3 linked regions of the Homo sapiens genome follow. The protein of the gene in region 1 interacts with the protein of each later gene in a biochemical or structural test. Each region holds a gene or a part of one and is shown in the gene's direction. Other genes may lie near its edges. The genes, in order: PRDM1, NFIX and TLE2.

Region 1 (7,105 bases):
TATTTTTAGTAGAGACGGGGTTCCACTATGTTGGCCATGATGGTCTCGATCTCTGGACCTCGTGATCCGCCCACCTTGGCCTCCCAAAGTGCTGGAATTACAGGCAAGAGCCACCGCGCCCAGCCAGGAATGACAAATGAATTACCTTATAAGTAAATGCCATTAAGGAAGGATAGCTGGAAGATGGGTTGAGGGGAATGGAGGACCACAGAACTAGTCCTATTTAAATACATGTGCATGGTAAAATGATTCCATTTGACAATAGGTTAATTATCTCATAGCATAAGGAAAATGCTTAACAGTCATATGCAAGATGATAAGCTTTCCTATAGCATCCAACCAAAAGATCTAGCCAGTACAATTTCCTTTGCTATATTAGGGTTAGAAAGGCCCCCAGAGGTGAACCAATTAGATGGAATCCTTGAATAAAACACTGGATTAGCAGTGAACAGAAAAAAGTCAGATTGCTTTCCTTCTTCCCATAGATGTCTCAGGGATATTTAGTTTCCTCAGAAGATAAAGAATTTAGTAAGCGTTTTTTTGTGCATACTTACATGAAATGTACATTATTTGAATTCTTTAAAAAGAAACAGCTGCATGATAACAAAAATTGTGTTATGCTTGCTTTAGCTGGTATTTTTGCCTAGAACGATTATATCGTTCGGACAAGAAGCTATTCCTAAGAAACAATATTTTTAATCCAGGAAGTTTTTCATTTTTAGAAATTTATCTTACTATTTCCCAAGCAAAAGAGGGTAGTTACAGATTCACTAAGAATCATGTGCTCACAATTTTTATTTAATAATTATTCCTCCTTAAAATATATTAATCACCTGACTTACAATGGTGGAACCATGAGTGCATTTTTGCCTTTATTGTCAATAACGTCTTCTCAGAAGTGAGCCACAAAGGTGCATAGTTCTTGGAGTTAAAGGTCTGAATTAAGACAATCCAGCATAAGTCTCATTAATGTGTGATTATTTTGAGAAAAGGCAAGAAGTACCTAAGAATCTCCCCCTCACTGTCCAGTTCCCTGTTTCATTTAAAGATTCACTGTAAGTAACTGAAAGGCTTTCCTTGGGAGGATTTATTTGAATCAGTCTTTCACATGCAAAGGATATTGTAGAACATCTCGTTTTTGCTGGCAGGAATATGAACATCTGTTGTGAGGAAAGAAAAAGTTTCATGCAAATTACACTGCCAAAGAAGGGATGTTCAAGTTGAGAAACCAGTGACATTTCTTGTAACTGTACTATGAATCAGCGCATTTTAATCTTCTAGATAATATATGGAAGTGCAGGAAGGTGGTAGGAAACGGTGTTCATTTTACATATGCGTTATTTTATTCTGTGTGAGTGACTTCATGGCACCGACATTGCTGTTTTTAAATGAGGATACAGTAAATTGCAGTCCGAGGAAGGCTAACTGGAATCAACATACCCGTAGCTTTAGAAAGCAGTTTCCGCACCAGCGAAGAGTACAAGAGCGATGGAACCCCATGTTCCTGGAAGTTTGCACATCAGAGTAAACAAACTTGAAAACCCCTCTTGATAGCAGAATTCACCCAGCCTTGTTCCATTTTCTCTTAACAAAACACACCGCAAAAGCTCTCACAAGCTGCTTTGATGAAGCCACATGTATTTCCCCCTTCACAATTTACAGGAAGTTACTCTTAAAAGAAAGTGATTCTGGTGTTTACCGCCTGTGTTAAAGGGACAGAGTTCCTTTTTATTTCTGATAACGTTTGAGCGAAATACAGAAACTATCTGTAGACTAGCATAGTCGGTACGTGAGTAAGGAAAAGCAATAACCTGCTGTCCGGTGAGCACAAAATTCCTGCTACGAACAGTGCCTTACTGCTGCTTGGAGACTGCAAGTCGCAGATCACACTAGGTATTGACTGATTGTATAAGGAAATTTCTTAAAGTCTAAAGTAAAGGTGGTACCTCCTAAAAAGAGGGGAAGAGAGAAAACTTTGTGTGGAAGGATAAGGAGTGTGTTTATAGTTTCAGTAAGAGTGTACGTTTTAATTTTTCTTCTTCCTCTGCCTCTTTGCCAAGTAGCCTGAGTGCATCTGTTATCCAGAAGTAGTATTACTCTAGGACAAACTTCAAATTCTTCATTCTGCGTTGCCTTTAAGGAACAACATACTTTCTTCCTGTTCTTTTTCCAAAAACACACGCCTATGGCTCTGTGTGTGGTGTTTTAGCCAGCCTCCTCCCAGATAAGGGGTTCCCTTCCCTCCTTTGCATTGAAAGGAAAGTGCAAGTCTGGACATGTTTATCAAGAGGAAAAGTGACTTCTCAGTAATAGACTGTCAAATTCGGGCTGCTGCCCGAGTGTTCGCTTTGTTATGGCAGGTGAAGTTCACCTTTGCCCCACCCAGTGTTTCCACAAAAAGGCAAGGTTCCAAGTATTCATATGAACAAGTGTTACTTTAGGACTTGGAGGGTTGGGGGTGGAGGATGTTTGCATAGTTGAAGCCTTGGGCGGGGGTGTAGGAAACGGCGAGTACAGAGGCCATAGAAAAAGCTAAGACTCAGTTTGACGTCGTCAGCCGGCTTGGTCTTCTACCCAGTGACTCAAAGCACTAAAAGTCAGCATAATCGGAACTGAAGTCAGTAGCATCGCCCATTTGCCATTCACTGCAGTAGCAAAAGTAGTACTCTGTGGTGGGTTAATCGGTTTGAGGCAGCTCCTTAAATGAACATTTGTGTTTCATTTTTCTGTTATTTTCCCGAACATGAAAAGACGATAAAACTGAAATGGAAAAGGTAACTGACAAAAGTGTGCCTTACCTGTTTCCGCCCTGATTTCTGCTGATTCAAGACTATTCTGGCTAAACTGATTGGATTCTTTTTCTAACTAGGCAGTAGGGGATCAGAAATCACACACGGTACCGGCTGTGTTTATTCTGAGAGGTGCTGGGGAGCTTTGGGTCTGACTTCCTTTTACATGCCTGTCTTCTCTTTTGGACAGATCTATTCCAGAGGGGAGCTTCACCACTTCATTGACGGCTTTAATGAAGAGAAAAGCAACTGGATGCGCTATGTGAATCCAGCACACTCTCCCCGGGAGCAAAACCTGGCTGCGTGTCAGAACGGGATGAACATCTACTTCTACACCATTAAGCCCATCCCTGCCAACCAGGAACTTCTTGTGTGGTATTGTCGGGACTTTGCAGAAAGGCTTCACTACCCTTATCCCGGAGAGCTGACAATGATGAATCTCAGTAAGTGGATTACAGAACAAAAAAATAAAAAATGCCAGTAATGTCGGTTCTGCCCCTTTGAACTAATAACATGTTGTTTAATTATACGGCTTTGTCATGTGTTGGATGAAGTAGGTGGCTTAAGCTAGGGACTAGGAAGAGGAAAAACATTTTTTGAGTCCCTATTAACTATTAGGAAACTTGATCATTTAAAAGTATATATATATATGAGGAGCTACCTTGAGTTTTGAATTCAGGATGTTACAGGAAGAAATATATGTCCAATTCTAATTTATCCAAAAGCAGTTGGGAGAATTACAGGGATTGGTCCAGACATGCTGCGTATGCAAGGTATAGCCCTCATCTGTGGTACTTTGGCAGGGCTTAGACTGCATCAAAATATTTATAGATGTACATTTGAGTGTACAGTTAGGATCTGATGTGGAACATTGTAAGATCATTGCTAGAAAAACTTTGTCATAATTTTTCAATATTATTCTAAGTGAATAACCGTAAAGATTTTACATCTTAGCTTCCTTCCTTACAGTAAAAAAACTATCTGATCTCTTGATCAGTATTATAGTAGCCACCTATCACTTTATCTTAACAAATTCTCAATTCCTTAGGTTTATGTGCTTTTACTTCTTTTATTTGATTAAAATTGCTGTCATGACCTCTCTCTGCAGAGGGCTGCATCATTTTGGTCATTCTCAAGTGATCTCTTTGAGCAATTTAAGAATTGCCATAAGATTCTAACCTCTGCTGTAACTATGGTTGTGTGTTCTTGGTTAGACCACTAAATCTTATTAGCAGTTTTAAAAATTATTCCTTTTGGTTTAGAAGTTAAGACTAAATGCTGAAGTTTTTGTAACTTTTGGTTTTGATATCATTTCAAACTTAAGAAAACATTTGAAGAAAAGGACAAAGAATTTCCACTTACCCTTTACCCAGGTTTACCAGTTATTGATAAGTATATCCATTTGCTTTACCAGAAGGCTAACTTGTTTTAGTTCTCATTTTCACCTTTGAGACATTTGGAATAAATATCAATGTTAACATAAATTGGAATTTTGACTTTGATTTTAGGACCAATGAACAAGCCAAGTACTTACCCTAGTCATATATAATCCAACTGTATGGTTATTTGGTATTCATTCCACACTTCATTTTACTTGATCTCCCTTAAGATTGCAAGATTGTGTTTGCAGTTTTTCTGAAAATCTGGGGCTATAAAAGCATCAGGACCTCCCCCGTAGGGGAGGTCGTGTGTTTGGGGTCCTTACACAACAGGTTACCCTTGAGCTTCAGGAAAAGAACTGGCTCTCAGTTCCCCAGTTCCAGCTTAATGGGTCTAATTAGGTCCTGACCAAAAAGGTGGCAGTTCTTTTCCCTCATGTCTCTTCAGCGCTCCCCGAGACTCTGGAGACTCTGTCATATCCCTAGGGCTGAGCCTCCCAGGAACCATTCGGCTGTTGTGGCATCTGTGTATGCCATGCCCAGTGCTGAGGACCTAGTAACAAACGACAAATGCACAGGCACAGTGGCATTTTTGTGGAACTCGTATTCCAGCTGTGCGTCTCAGAAGAAGCGCACAGCTCCCTCCTGGCTTTCTTAACATAGTGAGCCACTTCCACTTAAGGGTCTCCTTACATTCCTTGAGTTTAATCATTCATGGATTCAGAGGAAAGTCTTTTGATTTTTGCTTTTCTTTAAACAGTTCATTTGAGGTGACCTACCCCAGTGACTTTGCACCAACCACCAAGAAACTTTTTTGCATGCTTCCCGCACCCTGTGCCAATCAAGGGAAGGGTTTAAAGGCCTGGCGTTTTTATTCCTCAAAGAAAGGTTTTGCACAGTATTTTAAGGTTCAAGTGCTTCTACTTTGTGTTCAGAAGCAACTGTCATATATACTGTGAAATGACACCTTTTATTTATCCCTTTTTATTTATGCAGTATGTCCCCTTTTATTTTGGCAGAATTTTTTCTAAATGGTGGTTTAACATTTTCAAGCACATTTCATTGTCCAATATTCATAGTAAAGAATGAGAGTTAACAATAACCAGTCACATTAAAACAAGATTCCTGCTGCCAGTTGTGAAACCGGTTGTCTTAGGCGTGGCAGCTGATGATTGAGACTGTGATCAGGAAAATTTCCACTATTTCATCAGGCCTAATAGGTAGATTGTGTCTCCAAATGAACTGTGTTGGGTTTCCATGCTTAAAGCACAATAGAGGTGGTGCAAGAATCTCCATGAGGGCTTAAATGGCAGTGATGGTTCAGGCGGTAGAGTTTGGAGAAGAAGGGATTTGAAACAAACCAAAGGAAAGAAAAGTAAGTAGCCAGAAATCACAAAATGGCATTTTTCTAAAAACAAAGGAAAAGGAATAAAAGAACTAATAAGTTTGAAACCCCTACCCCTCCCAAATTTGGCAGGGGGGGAGGTATTTTTTTTCTATCTATCTAACTAACCCATCTAGAAAACAGTTGACCAAATTATAGACTTCTAAATGTTAATCTGCTTTCTCAGTTTCAGTTGAAAAGAGACTTTGTTTTGCCTACTGCAGAACTTCTAGGTTCTTTCTTATAGTCTTGGGGTTCTTATTATAGATCGAAAATGTGAGTCGGCATAATTAAGCCATTCGGAGTCTTCAGAAGCAGTTCACTCTTGAAATGACTCCGTCCGCCTACAGCCATTTAAGATTTCAGAACAAAAACAGATCTTGATTTTCTTTTTCATGTTAACTCAAGCTGTTGCTGAGTGGGAGAGTCAGAAATGACACCAGCTCCACTGATTACTCAGCTGCTGAAGGATGATTTTTTAAAATGCACCTTTACTGTATATGGACTTCCTAATTTCCACCTGTAGAGCATCTTAGGGAGGCTAACATGTCACTCTGGATGTTCTTTTAGAATAAGATGCAAATCTATTTTTCTGAAGGCATTAGAGATAGCAAACATTTATTGTGAGTTTACTATATACTAGGCACTGTGCTAAGTGTTTTGCATAGAAAGTTTAAAATTCTGGCTTTTTTGTTGGCCCAATCATAAGTTTCATATCAGTTCAACATTCAAATTATATTAAGGTACTTAAGAAGAATCCCTGGCTAAATGTGAGGGGCAGTGCCACAGATGGACTGAAACTTTATGCTTATTGCACATTTATGCTATTATTATTTGTTGAATTATAGAACCAAGGGAGTGTGGAAGCCACTGGAAAAAATATGAGACTTAGATACATAATTTGAGTAAAAATGGCTCAAAGTCATGAGGGTAAAGTTTTTTGTATTTCCATTTTATTCGAGCGGCATCGTTTTTAAAAATCATTATGAATTTGACCCTATATAGATGTTTCCAAATAATTCTTTTTCACCTTCATAAAATTCCTTCCTGTGGCTGTGAGATGCCTTGCCTATCAGTTTTCAAGCTTAGTTGTCTTTCTCATCCTTTACCATTTTAGCTTTAAAAAACAAAAGTGACAATTAGAACTTCCTGCCTGCTGGGCCTCACTGAAAGACCGATATTGGCCTGATAAGGAGATATTTATTTTGTTTTAGTGGCTTCAGAAATCCCTCTCCCTCAGCAAGCTTTCCATCACGGCCCCCCCGTCAGCATCTTCCCTGATAGCGTTCTTCTCTGTGTTTATTCTGGGGCTTCAGGCTCGCCCAGGAGGAACTGATAACCGCTGGCAGGAGATAACATTCTCTAAGGGGCTCTCAAATTGGAATCGAATCCCTCAAGCCAGTCAGCCTAGAGAATACATTTAAAGGGTTCAGTTCTGGAGTTTCACAGAGTTCATTTCTAGACCTATCAGATAGCAAGTGTGGAGTTCTTTCTCAACTAAATTCAAGCAGAGACATTTTTTAGACGATGAAGGATATTTGCACAAAGGCTTC
Region 2 (7,105 bases), on another chromosome or scaffold:
CTTGGAGCAGCGGGGCCCTGGCGGGGAAAGGTACTGTGGGCGAGGGGGAAGGGCGGGGGGAAAAATCTCCTTCTAGAAAAAGCATCGAAATTCAGGGCGGCCGGGTGGGGCGGTTCCTGGAGCTGCTGGAGTCCATTGTAGCCACAGTCCTGAGTCTCAGGCGGAGAGAGGGGTGGGGGGTGGATGGATGGACCCCCATCCCCATCCCAACCCTGCCAAGAAACAGAGACACAACCAGGATGTGAACTCACGTACACCACCATCACCGCCAAGATGGGGATGTAAGTGTCCTGTTCACACCGATGTCCAGACCCACGACCATCGACGAGCCTACAGACCTACGGACACAGGAAACCGACGACTTGTGTTCACACTGTCACACACACCCATTAACACACACGCACCTCTTGAAATGGGACACGTATATTGGTGTAGGCTTAGCGACACAGCAGTACCTCTTTGACGCACGTATGGACACAGGAAACTGTGGACTTGTGTTCACAACCACCCCCAGCGCACACATAAACACTCACAAACCCCTCGAGATGATACAGATAGCGACGAAGGCACATGGAGACCACGACACCTCCCAGACTCATGGAGCCCTGAGCACATGCTTGGATACAGGTAGACACAAATGTGTGTTCACCCCCACACATGCTCACATGGACCCAAGGACGGACAGGCGGATGGATGGATACACATCTTTACACAGAGACATAATGCAGTTGGCTCGCTCAGGTGTGTACACAAATAACTTTTCTTTTTCTATTTTTTTTTTTTTTGAGACGGAGCCTTGCTCTGTCGCCCAGGTTGGAGTGCAGTGGCGTGATCTCGGCTCACTGTAACCTCTGCCTCCCGGGTTCAAGCAATTCTCTGCCTCAGCTTCCCGAGTAGCTGGGATTACAGGTGCCCGCCACCACGCCCGGGTAATTTCTGTATTTTTTAGTGAAGATGGGGTTTCACCATCTTGGCCCGGCTGGTCTTGAACTTCTGACCTCGTGATCCACCTGCCTCGGCCTCCCAAAGTGCTGGGATTACAGGCATGAGCCACTGCACCCGGCCACAAATACCTTTTCAAACACACACACACACACACACACACACACAAATATGCACCAATGCGTGCTTCCCCCTCCTTGCCACAGGGATAAAAAGGCAAACATGCCGACATTTGCTGACACACACAAAGACATACATGGCCGCACACACGGATACACCCGCTCTCAGACACGCAGCGACCTACGCCCATTTTCCTGGCCATACAAGCAGCCGAACGTTCCTGTACTTCTGTATCTGCATAGCTCCCCCAACACTCCTTCCATGGGAGGGGGATGGCTGGGGCTTCCCTGATGCCCCCTTCCCCCAGCTTTCTCTCTGGGTCACTCTGGCCACCCCTCTGTCCCTGCGAAGCTATAGCTCTCTGTCCCTGCTCCGGCCTGGTGCCCTGTTTTCATGGCACTTGGCATTTTCTCTCCGGCTCTGGCCCTGCCTGATTCATGCCCACTGCTGGGGTGGGAGGTGTGCCCAGGTGTGGGCCGGGATGGGGTAGCTCATGAGATGAGCTGGGGCTCCGTGAGATGTTTTGATGCTGGGCCGAGCTCAGAGCCGAGGGCTCTGCCGGGAACAGGGTGCTCCAGTCTCTCTAGGGCCTGGAATGTCTTGTGTAGCCTCAAGAGCTCCCAGACGGAGGCTGCGGGAGCGGAGTCAAGGGCTAGGCTTTGCCGTCAGACAGAAATGGGTTCGAGCTCCAGCTCTACATGTTCTAATCTTGCGACCTGAAGCACAGGATTTTCCTGGCCTGTAAAATGGGCAAAAACCAGTGTCTATCTCTTGGGCTGTACTTAGGTTCAATGTGGTGCCTGGCACATAGTGTGTGCTCCATAAATGGTAATTGTTGCCAATTGTTGGTTGTCAACCTCCCAGACCCTCCCAGCTGAGAGAGGGATGCCTCTGAGGGGTAGAAGACAGGATCGAGCACCTCCCAACCATAGATATCCAAGTGGACTGCCTGGAGGAGGAGGAGGCAAGAGGAGAGTTTGGAAGGATGAGAGTTTGCACATGGCCCAGCTCTTTTACCTTTGGATGGGGGCCTGTAGGCCAAGCAGAGGGTGGCACAACTTCAAGATAGGGGAGAGATGGTGGGGGAGAGTGGGGGGCAGGAGGGGAGAGACGAGGCCTCCACTGTTCCATGAGGACCAGATACCCTGGTTGGGGGCCCTGAGTCCTGGTATAAGAGTATGTGTGCACGCATTCATCCAAATGTATGTGGGACAAAGAGACCCGGTGCATCTAGATGATGACTTCAGGGACGTCCCCAAGCTCCAGAACTTTCTGTGTCTGCACCTGGGCGTTGTCACCTGGACCCGCCATGGAGACAGGACATATGTGCAGGACCCTATGGTGGGCACTTGGCTGGATCAGGGCACATTGCGGGTGGGAGCAATGCTGGGTGTTTGGCCGTGGCGCCGTGGCTGTGGGCAAAATGCCCCCGTGGTTGGTGTGTTGACTGCCGTCCTCCCCATCTAACCCACAGGGAGCCTGGCCTTTTAAATCTGCTGAGATATTGTCTCCCCCACCCCCATGAAGCTGGAATCTGGGGACTTGCTGGACCAGAGAGGTAGGGGAGGCTGGGCACTTTCTCCAACACGGTGCTGAGAATGGGCCTTCTGTCCCCTCCCTCCCAGCTGGGGTGGGGAAAAGGAGGGGGGTGTCTTAATTTTCTTGCCCCCAAAGCCCTGGATGTGGGGGCAAGTGGGCCAGGAGGACAGCTGTGAGCCACTATCTGGGTTCTCCCAGATCGGTGTGCATGTTAATCGGCATGTCAGGCCTCAGAGCCACCATTTTCCCGAGGATGTCTGTGTGGCAGCGTGTGTCTGCCCGGGTCCCTCTCCATGCCTCTCCATGTCTCCCAGCGTCCATCACTGGGTGCTACCTGCATGTGACTCCACGGATCATCGCACGCCCTGTCTCTTGTGTATTTGGTAGTGGGGGTCGGGGAGCGTGCCACCATGCGTGTCAGTGTGCCGGATGTAGTCTCTGTGTCACGGTGGCGCTGCGCACGTCAACGGGTATTGGTGTACCGGTCACCATCTTTGTATCTGCGCTTTGTATCTGGGGTGACAGTGTCCCAGCGACATGCGTCACATCTACAGCAGTGTTTTTCTGGGTGTCTGTGCGTCACGGCAAAGAGTGTATCCGTGTGTCTCACACACGTGTTGGCCTGTCCGTGTCAACTTGTGTCCACATACGTGTCAACGCACGTGTCTCCAGTGTCATCACCCTCATATCACTGTGCCTCCTGAGCTTGTCCCCGTGACAATCACTGTGGGTCTCACCCCACGGGCGCCTCTCCTGGGCATTCCCTTGGCCTCCGAGCACCATGTGAGATGCCTGCTATGGCGGCCGGGCAAGCGGCTGGGAGCGGGCTGGCTGCTCAGTCCCTTCCCATGAGGTTGAGCGGCCGCAGTGGCCTTGCTGGGGGCCCCGCCCGTGCCCCTGGCCTGGCGTGGACAGAAGCCCGTTGTGCGGCAGCGAGGTGCGGGCGTGTGTTCGGGCCGCCCACAGGCCTCCCTCTGTCTGCCCGGCGCACATTGATCTTGGCTTCTGCCTGTGTCCGTTCTAGCCTGGCCAGCTGGGTGTCCGGCTGTCTCCGTGGGCCTGAGCCCACTATCCCCGCTGCCCCCACAGCCAGGCAGGCCCTGGGCCCCACACCCCTGGGCCACCCGCCATCCCTCCGAGGCTCTGAGGGCGCGGATTTGGAAACTGAGGTCCCCCCTTCTTTCCCCCTTTCTCTCTCTCTCTTTCCTCCCTCTCTCCTCCCCTCCTCCCCTCCTCCCGCTCCCTCTCTCCCTCTCTCTCTCCTCCTGCCAAACGCGTCTTGGCTCCGTCTGAATATCTCTCCTCCTCGATTTTTGGCTCCAGCTCTGGGCGCGTTCACTAAAGGAAGAAGGGCTAGCTCCCCAACCCCCCCTTCCTCACCACCTCCCCCCTCCCGAGGAGCCCCTCTGAGGGCGGGAGTGGCCTCGTGCAGGGGCCTGGGCCCCCTGAGTGGGCTTGGCCAGGGGGGCACAGGCCTGGCGGGTGAGGGAACAGGGTGGACAGGGCCTGGCAGCCAGAGGGAGGCAATGGGCAGGGTGACTGAGCTGCCCGGCGGGGCGGGCGGGCAGGGAGGGGTCGGGGGCACGGAGCTGGGGTGTCTGGCTTCTGGTGGGGCTGGCAGGCCTCTGTGAGGCGCAGCTGTGCCCAGAACTCCAAGTTGCGTTTGCCACCACTACCGATGTGGCTGCGCCAGCCAGGGAGGGGAGGCGGGTAGCGGGCACTGCGGCGCTCTGCAGCCAATCGGAAGCCGGGGTTGCACTGGGGAGCTCTCCCCCCACTGGGCCCCACCCTGAGGGGAGCCGGGGGTGGTGGCCAGCAGTGGGCAGGGGGCAGTGCCCACCACCATCGCCAAGGACCCTGCCCCCTCAGCTGAAGCTCAGTGCCAGCCTTCCTGGCACAGATCGGGCAAGAGCGGGGATCTGTCTGTCCCCACCTGAATCTGTGTGAGCCAAGCTGGAGGAAAGGACAGCATGGAGGTGCACCCGACCCCCCTGGGCCTTTTAGTCCAAGGCAGGCAGGAGCTAGGGATGGGTTCCAAATTATCCAGGTGGTTCCGTCCAAATATCGGCTTCGGTCGAATCATCTTGGGGAGTTGGGGGGGGGTTTATTCCGGGTCCATCTCACACAAAGTCACACACTCTCACTGGCACATGCGGGCACAAAGAATCACGCTGACACACACTGGCATGCTGCACCTCCCTCAATCAAACAGACACAGGCGTCCCCATACAAAGAATCTTGCCCTCACTCACAGACACCTTGAGGCACCCGGCCACACCCGAACACATCGATGCGGCATTACACACTCAGGGACGTGCATGTGGGTGCAGACACACGGGACACGCGCAGTCACACGATCACATGCCATGAAGCACACAGCACAGACACAGGCTCTGCCACCGTCAAATGCAGCCCCACAGGCACAGCTAGAAACACACAGCACACACACTCAGTCATAATGTCAGTGCCCAAAACACACACATGAGCACCGATACACCCGCACATGCCACCAAGCACACAGGTACATGCACATGCATGCAATAACACGCTCTCAGACACACAAAACACCCCACACACTCCCTAACCCAGTGTCACCCACCAGGAGTGATTTCACCCATTGGGAAATGTCTGGAAACATTTTTTTTTTTTAGAGACAGACTGTCATCTGTAGCCCAGGCTGGAGCACAGTGGTGCGATCTCGGCTCACTGCAGCCCTGACCTCCCAAGCTCAAACGATCTACCCATCTCAGCCTCCTGAGTAGCAGGGAATACAGGTGCATGCCACCACACCTGGCTAATTTTTAAATTTTTTTGTAGAGACAGAGTCTGGTTATGTTGCCCAGGCTGGTCTTGAATTCCTGGGCTCAAGCAGTTCTCCCGCTTCACCCTCCCAAGTAGCTGGGACTACAGCCGAGCACCACCATACCCAGCTAATTTTTAAATTTTTAGTAAAGATGAAGTCTGGCTTTGTTGCCCAGGCTGGTTTTGAATTCCTGGGCTCAGGTGATCCTCCCGCCTCGGCCTCCCAAGGTGCTGGGAGCCATGAGCCACCATGCCCAACCTGGAATCATTTTTGGTTGTCACACTTGTGGAGGGGGTGCTATTTAGTGAGTGGAGACCCAGGATGCTGCTCAGTCCCCTACAATGGAACCCCTCAACCCTCGCCGACCACAAAGAATGATCCAGCCCCAAATGTCAGTAGTGCCAAGGTTGGAAACCCTGCCATGCATCCCCAGATACACAGTAACACACACAGGCACAGCTAACCCTTGACACTCATTACACATGCACCCACATACACAGTCACACCCAAACAAGACGCCAGCTGACAGTGTCACACACACACACTCTCCCTCACTAGGACCCAGGCATTGTCGCATATATACCCCATTTCCCCTGCCAAACCCAGGCACAGTCGGCGTGCCATGTACACAGTCCAGTGTTACCCCAGCACACAGGGACGAGAGCCACACCCCCACACATATTCGCACCTGGGCCACACCTGGCAGTGGTTGGAAATGGTGCCTGAGAGCTGAGACCTGCCCTGGTGGCACCTCCCCTCTGCTTGTCAGCCACAACCAGCTGTCTTTGCGCAGCAGCTACAGCCACCCCAGCTTCTCAGGATAGAATTGGGAGCCCCAAATCCCTGCCCTGGTTTGTAGAAGCCTGGGGTGAGACAAAGCCTGGAAAAACCACATGCCCATCCCTGCCCAGGACACTCGCAGTCTTCTAGACTCCGTGGTCGAGGGCTCCACCCTCACCTCCTTGCTCCTGGCAGCCACCGAGAGAAGGGATGGGGACAAAGCTAGGTTCTTTTTTTTTTTTTTTTTAAACAGTCTCACTCTGTTGCCCAGGCTAGAGTGTAGTGGTGCAATCTCAGCTCACTGCAACCTTGGCCTCCCAGGCTCAAGCAATTCTCATGCCTCAGCCTCCCGAGTAGCTGGGATTACAGATGTGCACTATCACACCTGGCTAATTTTTGTATTTTTAGTAGAGACAGGGTTTCTCCATGTTGGCCAGACTGGTCTCAAACTCCTGGCCTCAAGTGATCCGCCCGCCTCGGCCTCCCAAAGTGCTGGGATTACAGGCGTGAGCCACTGTGCCTGGCCAACAAAGCTAAGTTCTGAGACTCCTGTCCTCCGTGGGGCTGTCTCACTAATCCTTTGGCCTTTGACTCCCCAGTTCTGACCCCAGAGAAAGAAGAGACAGCGGTCAGCAGAATGGTAGAAGAAGATAGGATAATAGCAAAATAAATGTTTGTCCTAAAAATCGTAGCAACAGCTAATGTGAACTGTGTGCTTGCTGCGTTGCACCCTTGCTAAGTGCCTTCCCAGCTTGTCTTCTTGAATCCTGTGTTCAGCAGGTACTGTTATTAGGAGAGTGGGGCCTGCAGAGCCAGCTTCCTGGGTTTGACTCCTGGCTCTGCCACTCACTAGCTGTGTAACTTCAGGCAAGTTGCTTAACCTCTCTGGGTCTCAATTTCTGTATCTAGGAAGCAGGGCTG
Region 3 (7,958 bases), on another chromosome or scaffold:
GGGAGAACGGAGGAGGGTTGCAGGCCAGGTGTTGGGAATAGAGGGCTAGGGTGATGCTCTGGTTTAGAGTATCTGGGGGATGTGTGTGGGAACCCTGATAGGAGCAGGGGGTAAGAGTCTGAGATCTGGGGGACCTCTAGGGGAGATGCCCAGTTGGTGGCTGGACCCACAGGGCTGGGTCTCAGAGTAGGAACCGGAGGTGGTGCCAGAGCTTGCAGCCATCCTCACGAGGCGGTCACTGAAGCCTGGAGGGAGAGGCGGTGTCTCAGAGCCCTGGAAGCCAGAGGTGTGAGTCAAGTTGACATTCAAGTGACCGGGCTAAGGAAGGACAGAGACCTACGTTTGTTATTTTACTTTTTGTAGAGATGGGGGGTGGGGGTTGGGTCTCGCTATGTTGCCCAGGCTGGTCTCAAACTCCTGGCCTCTTTGGCCTCCCAAAGTGCTGGGATTACAAGTTTGAGCCACCACACCTGTGCTTAGAGAGGGAAGAGGGCCGCCCGGACAGGAGAGCCCCGCAGAGGGAGGTGAGGCTGCTCTGAGCAAGCATTGTAATGGAGGTCAAGAAGGAGCCATTGGGTTTCCAGAGCCAGGGGCTTAGGCAGAAGAAGGAAGATCTGGAGGGGCGCGGTGGCTCACACCTGTAATCCTAGCACTTGGGAGGCTGAAGCAGGCAGATCGCCTGCCAGGAGATCAAGACCAGCCTGGCCAACATGGTGAAACCATGTCTCTACTAAAAATACAAAAATTAGCCGGGTGCGGTGGCTCACGCCTGTAATCCCAGCACTTTGGGAGGCTGAGGCGGGCGGATCACGAGGTCAGGAGATTGAGACCATCCTGACTAACATGGTGAAACCCTGTCTTTACTAAAAATACAAAAAATTAGCTGGGCGTGGTGGTGGGCGCCTGTAGTCCCAGCTACTTGGGAGGCTGAGGCAGGAGAATGGTGTGAACCTGGGAGGCAGAGCTTGCAGTGAGCTGAGATGGCACCACTGCACTCCAGCCTGGGCGACAGAGTGAGACTCCATTAAAAAAAAAAATTAGCCAGGCTTGGTGTATGTCTGTAATCCCAGCTGCTCGAGAAGCTGAGGCAGGAGAATCACTTGAACCTGGGAGGCGGAGGTTGCAGTGAGCCGAGATCTGTAATCCCAGCTACTTGAGAGGCTGAGGCAAGAGAATCGCTTGAAACTGGGAGGCGGAGGTTGCAGTGAGCCGAGATCGTGCCACTGCACTCCAGCCTGGACGACAGAGCATGACTCCGTCAAAAAAAAAAAACAACCAACAAGAAGGAAGATGTGGGGTGGACAGTTGCAGACAATGAGGACAGAGGCTACCATGTATGCTCAAGGTCCAGGCAGGGGAGATGTTGGCCTCCCAGGAGCAGTGAAACACCTGCCGGAAAGGGTTTGGAATCAGCACTTCACAGACCCCCAAGAACCTGGAATCACGGACTCTTGACAGCGTAGAATGATGGCGCTCCCTGTTTGTGAGAATTTCCAAGCAGGGAGTGTGGCCGGCGGTTTCTGGCTTTAGGCTGGTTATTGAGCACTTACTGTGTGCCAGGCCCCGCAGAGACCTAGACAGGCTCAGTCCCTCCACAGCCTTCTTCGTGGTGAGGGAGACAAACAAGGACGCGAACAACCTCCGAGTAAACATACTCACATCCAAAACACACTGTGGGCTGGGCACGGTGGCTCAAGCCTGTAATCGCAGCACTTTGGGAGGCCAAGGAGGGTGGATCATCTGAGGTCAGGAGTTTGCGACCAGCCTGGCCAACATAGCGAAAGCCGGTCTCTACTAAAAACATAAAAATTAGCCAGGCGTGGTGGTGGGCACCTGTAATCCCAGCTATTCGGGAGGCTGAGGCAGGAGAATCACCTGAGCCCAGAAGGCAGAGGTTGCAGCAGTGAGCCGAGATCACGCCACTGCACTCCAGCGACAGAATGAGACTCCGTCTCAAAACAAACAAAAACAAAAAAACCGAAGGCCAGGCATGGTAGCTCACGCCTGTAATCCCAGCACTTTGAGAGGCCGAGGCAGGTGGATCACCTGAGGTCAGGAATTCAAGACCAGCCCGGCCAACATGGTGAATCCGTCTCTACTAATAATACAAAAAAAATTAGCTGGGCATGGCGGCGGGAGCCTGTAATACCAGCTACTCCAGAGGCCGAGGCAGGAGAATCGCTTGAACCCGGGAGGCATAGGTTGCAGCAGTGAGCCGAGATCGCGCCACTGCACTCCAGCCTGGGCAGCAGAGCAAGACTCCGTCTCAAAAAACAAAAACAAAAACAAACAAAAAGCCACACACTATGGTAGGAGCTGGGAAGAGAGGGAGAATAGGATGGAGAGTGTGAAAATAACGGGGTGGGCAGAAGCTGTTGAAATGGGTGGCTAGGAGGGGCCGTTCTGAGGAGGTAGCTTTTGAGCTGAGACTTGAATGATAAGAAGCAAGGGAAAAGCATTCCAGGTACAGGGAACAGAAAGTGCAATGGCCCTGAGGCTGGACTGTGCCTGGTGTGAGGCCAGTGTGACTTGGGCAGAGTGAGTGAGGGCGAAAATGACCGGAGTTGAGATCATGAAGCTGGCTGGCCGGGTGCAGTGGCTCATGCCTGTAATCTCAGTGCTTTGGGAGGCCGAGGTGGGAGGATCGATTGAGCCCAGGAATGCAAGACCAGCCTGGGCAACACAGTGAGACCTTGTCTCTATAAACAATAAACAAAACATAAAGAGATGGTGAAGGGGAAAAGGGGAAGAGTTTTGTGAAGAGCCTTGTGGGAAGAGAGATGAGTTTGGATTTATTTTGAGGGCAATAGGGAGCTAGTGAGTACTACACACACACACACACACACACACACACACACACACACACACACAATTGTATCTTTATCCCAGGCTGTGTCTCTTTTCCTCCCTTCCCAGAGCTGCCCAACCTCATCGTTCAGGTCTCATCTCCAAGGCTACCCTCCCCCAAGGGTCCTCTCCCAGACACCCCACATAAGCAGGTTTGCTTTTGTTCATCTCTATCACTGCCCTCTAAACTCTTCCTCTGTCTGTACAAATAGTCCCATAATTACCAAGCTGTGAACCTGCCTAGCCTGTCACTCACATCCCACAAACTCAGAGAGGGCAGGGATCTGTCTCCCTTATCCACCCTTACAATCCCTGTGCCTGGAAGGATGCCTGACACGTCATAGGTGCTCTGTAAATATCTGTGGGCTGGAAAACGATGGCTTTAAATTTGATAAGGGCTTTTTTTTTTTTTTTTTGAGACAAGGTCCTGCTCTGTCACCCAGGCTGGAGTGCAGTGATGTGATCTCAACTCAGTGCAGCCTTGACCTTCTGGGGCTCAGGTATCTCCCGCCTCAGCCCCCCAAGTAGCCGGGACCACAGGTGTGCATCACCATGCCTGGCTAATTATTTTTGTATTTTTTGTAGAGATACAAAAAACACAAAAATGTTTTTTTGTATTGTCGCGGTGTTGTCCACACTGGTCTTGAACTCCTGGGCTCAAGCGATCCTCCCTCCTCAGCTTCCCAAAGTGCTGGAGCTACAGGCATGACCCACCACCCCTGGCCCATTGATAAGGGCTCTTGTGCCCTTTTGTAAGGGTACAAAATGGGTTTTTGTAACCCTAACCCTTAGGTACCATTAGGTACTCGATCACCTAAGGACACAAGTCCAAGTGTCATCAAGGGGCATGGATTTTTCTCTGTTTTGTTCCCAGCTGTGCCCCAGTGTCTACAGCAGTGTGTGGTCCACAGTATGCATTTAGTACACGTTTGTTGATTGACTTCACAAACCTCTCCTGAGGTTTCTCCAAAGAGAATAAGAACTTCCCACTCCCCGGGTGGGCCTGAAGGATGCTGGCTGGATGTCTGTGGTCTCTGGTCGGGGCTGGAGCCTTTGCCGTGGGAGAGACTTGAGTCTGATGGCAGAGCTGTGGTTCTTCCAGTTCTGAGTGGGACACGGCTCCTGCCTTCAAGAAACCCAGTCTGAGAGGGGAGACAGCCCAGTCCACTGGTGATGGCAGTAGGAACACAATTCCCATCTGTGGAAGTTTGCTCTGTGTAGGGAGAGGCTGACAGCGTTCATGCACTATCTCATTTAAGTGCAGTGCCCAGTGCGGTGGCTCCCGCCCGTAATCCCAGCACTTTGGAAGGCCGAAGAGAGAGGCTTGAGTCCAGGAGTTCAAGACCAGCCTGGGCAACATAGTGAGACGCCCCCCTACTCCATCTCTGCAAAAAATTAAAAAATTAGCTGGGCGTGGTGGTGCACACCTGTAGTCCCAGCTACTGGAGAAGCTGAGGGGGAAGGATCGCTTGAGCCCAGGAGTTCGAGGCTGCAGTGAGCCATGATTGCCCCACTGTACTCCAGCCTGGGCAACACAGGGAGACCCTATCTCTGCAAAAAATTAAACCCTAAAGATAGCGCACCACCCCTGACCTTTTGCAGAGACTACTGAGGCCCCCAGAGGGCGAGGGCCCGGCATGATCTGGGAAGCAGTGTTTGCTGTGAGATTCCCTTTCTGGCAGGGTTCCCTGCCAGCGCTTGGCAAGGCTGCGTCCTGCTGACCCTTCAATCTCAACCCAATGTCACTTGCTCAGAAAAGCCATTTCCGACTCCAGACTGGTCCCCGCTCCCCGCAAGCCCCCCCCCCCGCTCCCACGGTGGGTAACACGGTGTGAATTTCTTCACTGGTTTTTCTTCTCCCGCCCCTCCGGGAGGGGGTGGGGACCCTGTTTTAAGGCACTGGGCGCCTCCCCACCCGGCCTCAGTTTCCCCAACGGCCCAGGGACTGAAGGAAGGGGGCGGGTGCCCGGGGGCCGGGGGGGGCGCGGGCGCGGGGAGGGGCGGTGCGCGGGGGTGGGCGCGGGGCGGGCCGCGGGCGCGTGGGGGCGGCGGCGCCACCTTAAGGCGGCTCAGCCCGCGGCTCCCGGCCGAGCCCCGCCGGAGGGAGGCGGCTCCGCGCGGGGCCCGCCGCCCGCGCCGCCGCCACCGAAACCCGGCCGCGGCGCGCCCGACCTTCTGCGCCGGCTGCCGCGGCCGCCCTCGCCGCGCTCCCGCCCCGGCCGCTGCCCCTGCCCGCCCCGCTCGCCCCGCGCACCCCAACCCGGGGAGGGGCTCCCACGACCCCGGGCGCGCGCGCTTGGGGGCGCGCCAGGGACTCCAGGGTCCCTTGCCCCGCGCCGCTTCTCCCTCCTCCCTCTTTCTTCGGGCAGCCTCCCCACCACCCCACTTCAGCCTCCCCCACTCTTGCCGCCTCCATATCATCAAGCTCTGGTGGCGCCTGGGGGGCTTTTCGGATCGGCAGGATGTACCCCCAGGGAAGGCACCCGGTGAGTGCGGACTGCGGGGAGGGGGCCCCCAGTGTCCGGGAACTCAGACCCTGACGTTTCCCCCACACCCCCCCCAGACCCCGCTCCAGTCCGGCCAGCCCTTCAAGTTCTCGATCTTGGAGATCTGCGACCGCATCAAAGAAGAATTCCAGTTTCTTCAGGCTCAATACCACAGGTGAGGGGGGCCGCCCCAGGGGCCGCGGGAGTTCACCTGGGCGCCGGGGCGGGGCGAGGCCTCCGGGGTATAGGGCGGGGAGGAGGGGCTCCCGGTTGGAGGGGGGGCGCGACAAAGGCCTCCAGGTGGAAGCGCAGGTGCAGAGGGGTCTGGGGACAGTCAGAGCTGGGGCATTTGGAGCCCAGGAAGGGGCGGGGAGGGACTGGGACAGGAGGTGGGGGGAGGTCTGTAAGGAAGTCGGGAGGGGGAGATCCAGCCTCTCACTTTGGAAGCCGGCCCACATGGGGCGGGTGGGAGCCCCTTGCCCTCTCTCTTCTTCTCAGCCTCAAGCTAGAATGTGAGAAGCTGGCCAGCGAGAAGACGGAAATGCAGCGACATTATGTCATGGTGAGGGCACTTATGATGCCAGGGTGAGGGGAGAGGCGGGCAGGGCTTTGAGTCACGGTGGACTCTGGGGTAGGTCCCTGCCCCACTCCGAACCTCGTCTTCCCCGTCTGTACATTGGGCAGGTTGGGATTTCAGGCTCTCTAGGAGGGTCCTCCCAGCTCTGGGAATGGGGAGACAGGGAGGACCCCTCGCCTGATGGGAGTCTCTGTCGGGCCAGGGCCTCTGGACACTTCCTACCTGCCCTGCCTCTCTGGGGAGAGTAGAGGGGGCCCTTCCAGGCAGAGCCCCCGCTTCCTCCTCTGGGACCCCGTGGAGCTGGGGGGGGCTCTGCTTCCTGCTGTGATTCCCCTGAACCTGGGGACTCTTGGAAGACCCTGGCATCACCTATCTGGAGGAGGGCACCCATCTCCACCCTAGACGTTCTTACTTGGTTTTTCCTTTGCAGTATTATGAGATGTCGTACGGGCTCAACATTGAAATGCATAAGCAGGTAACTGGGTTGGGGTTACGCGTGTTCAGGAGGGAGGGTGGGGGTCTGGAAGCCCTGAGAAGGACCCAGAGTGGGCAGCCGGGGCCAGAGCAGACCTAGGGAACACGGGTCTCATCCTGAAATCTCCGCAGAGGTCACAGAGGGCCCATCTGGGACCAGGAAGACAGATTTCAGCCTCGTGGAAGGAAAATGAGTCCCACCTTCTGAAGACAGTATCTAGCAGTTGGAGCGTCCAGCAGAGATGCAGGCAGTGGGCAGGGGCCACCAGGCATCCCCATCAAGGAGGGCACATAGCAGAGGCAGGGCAGCCAGGCCAGGGAGGCTGTGGAAGTGACTTCTGTCCTAGGAGGGAGCTGGATGGCCACTCTTAGAGGTCCCTTTCAACCCAGAAAGTCTGAAGTTTTGAGATGGACCCCAGGTTCTGTTGCTGCTTTGAAGCTTCTGAGATTGGTCTCAGTGTGATTGGCTGGAAGGTTCCAAGATTGTTCTCCAGGCCCTGAATTTGATGCCATGGTTCAGACTGTGACCCCACTACTCCAAAATAGACCTCAAAACTCTGTGGCTGTCTTCAGGGCTTTGAGATTGACTCCAGTGTCGTAAGGCTCTGAGCCTCTTCTGGAGCTTCTCAGTGTGATCCAAGGTTCTGAGACAGACTTCAGGGTTCTGAAATAGACCTCAGGGTTCTGAGATTGACCTCAAGGTTCAGAGATAGACCTCAGGGTTCTGAGATTGACCTCAGTGTTCTGAGATAGACCTCACGGTTCTGAGATTGACCTCAGTTTTCTGAGATAGACCTCAAGGTTCTGAGATAGACCTCAGGGCTCTGAGATTGACCTCAGGGTTCTGAGATAGACCTCAAATTTCTGAAATTGACCTCAGGGTTCTGAGATAGACCTCAAGGTCCTGAGATAGACCTCAGGGTTCAGAGATAGACCTCAAGGGTCAGAGATAGACCTCAGAGTTCTGAGATAGACCTCAAGGTTCTGAGATAGACCTCAGGGTTCAGAGATAGACCTCAAGGGTCAGAGATAAACCTCAGGGTTCTGAGATTGTCCTATCTGTGTACTGAGATGTGTTAAAAGGTTCTGAGGTGTTCCTGAACTTGTGATCTCAAGGTTCAGAGATAGACCTCAGGGTTCTGAGATAGACATCAGGGTTCAGAGATAGACCTCAGGGTTCTGAGATAGACAGGGTTCAGAGATAGACCTCAGGGTTCTGAGATTGACCTCAGGGTTCAGAGATAGACCTCAGGGTTCTGCGATTATCATATCTATGTGCTGAGATGTGTTAAAAGGTTCTGAGGCTATTCCCGAACTTCTGATCTCAAGGTTCTGAGATAGACCTAAAGATTTTTTTTTTTTTTTTTTTTTTTTAAATTTTGAGACAAAGTTTCACTCTTGTTGCCCAGGCTGGAGTGCAATGACCTGATCTTGGCTCACTGCAACCTCTGCCTCCTGAGTGCAAGCGCCTCTCCTGCCTCAGCCTCCCGAGGAGCTGGGATTACAGGCGCCTGCTACCATGCCTGGCTAATATTTTGTATTTTTAGTAGAGACGGGGTTTCTCCATGTTGGCC

The links.
Region 2: the proteins of PRDM1 (region 1) and NFIX form a complex in vitro, tested with the Homo sapiens proteins (one study listed by BioGRID).
Region 3: the proteins of PRDM1 (region 1) and TLE2 form a complex in vitro, tested with the Homo sapiens proteins (one study listed by BioGRID).

The regions. Positions count from the first base shown.
Region 1 is NC_000006.12:106,096,321-106,103,425, forward strand, and holds part of PRDM1 (PR domain zinc finger protein 1), read left to right. Parts: intron 1-1,768; exon of another isoform or gene 1,769-1,893; intron 1,894-2,620; exon of another isoform or gene 2,621-2,765; coding exon of another isoform or gene 2,766-2,774; intron 2,775-2,979; coding exon 2,980-3,232; intron 3,233-7,105. UniProt on the Homo sapiens protein: Transcription factor that mediates a transcriptional program in various innate and adaptive immune tissue-resident lymphocyte T cell types such as tissue-resident memory T (Trm), natural killer (trNK) and natural killer T (NKT) cells and negatively regulates gene expression of proteins that promote the egress of tissue-resident T-cell populations from non-lymphoid organs.
Region 2 is NC_000019.10:12,998,407-13,005,511, forward strand, and holds part of NFIX (nuclear factor 1 X-type), read left to right. Parts: intron 1-7,105.
Region 3 is NC_000019.10:3,026,256-3,034,213, reverse strand, and holds the start of TLE2 (transducin-like enhancer protein 2), read left to right. Parts: upstream 1-4,933; 5' UTR 4,934-5,309; coding exon 5,310-5,333; intron 5,334-5,410; coding exon 5,411-5,508; intron 5,509-5,831; coding exon 5,832-5,895; intron 5,896-6,340; coding exon 6,341-6,385; intron 6,386-7,958.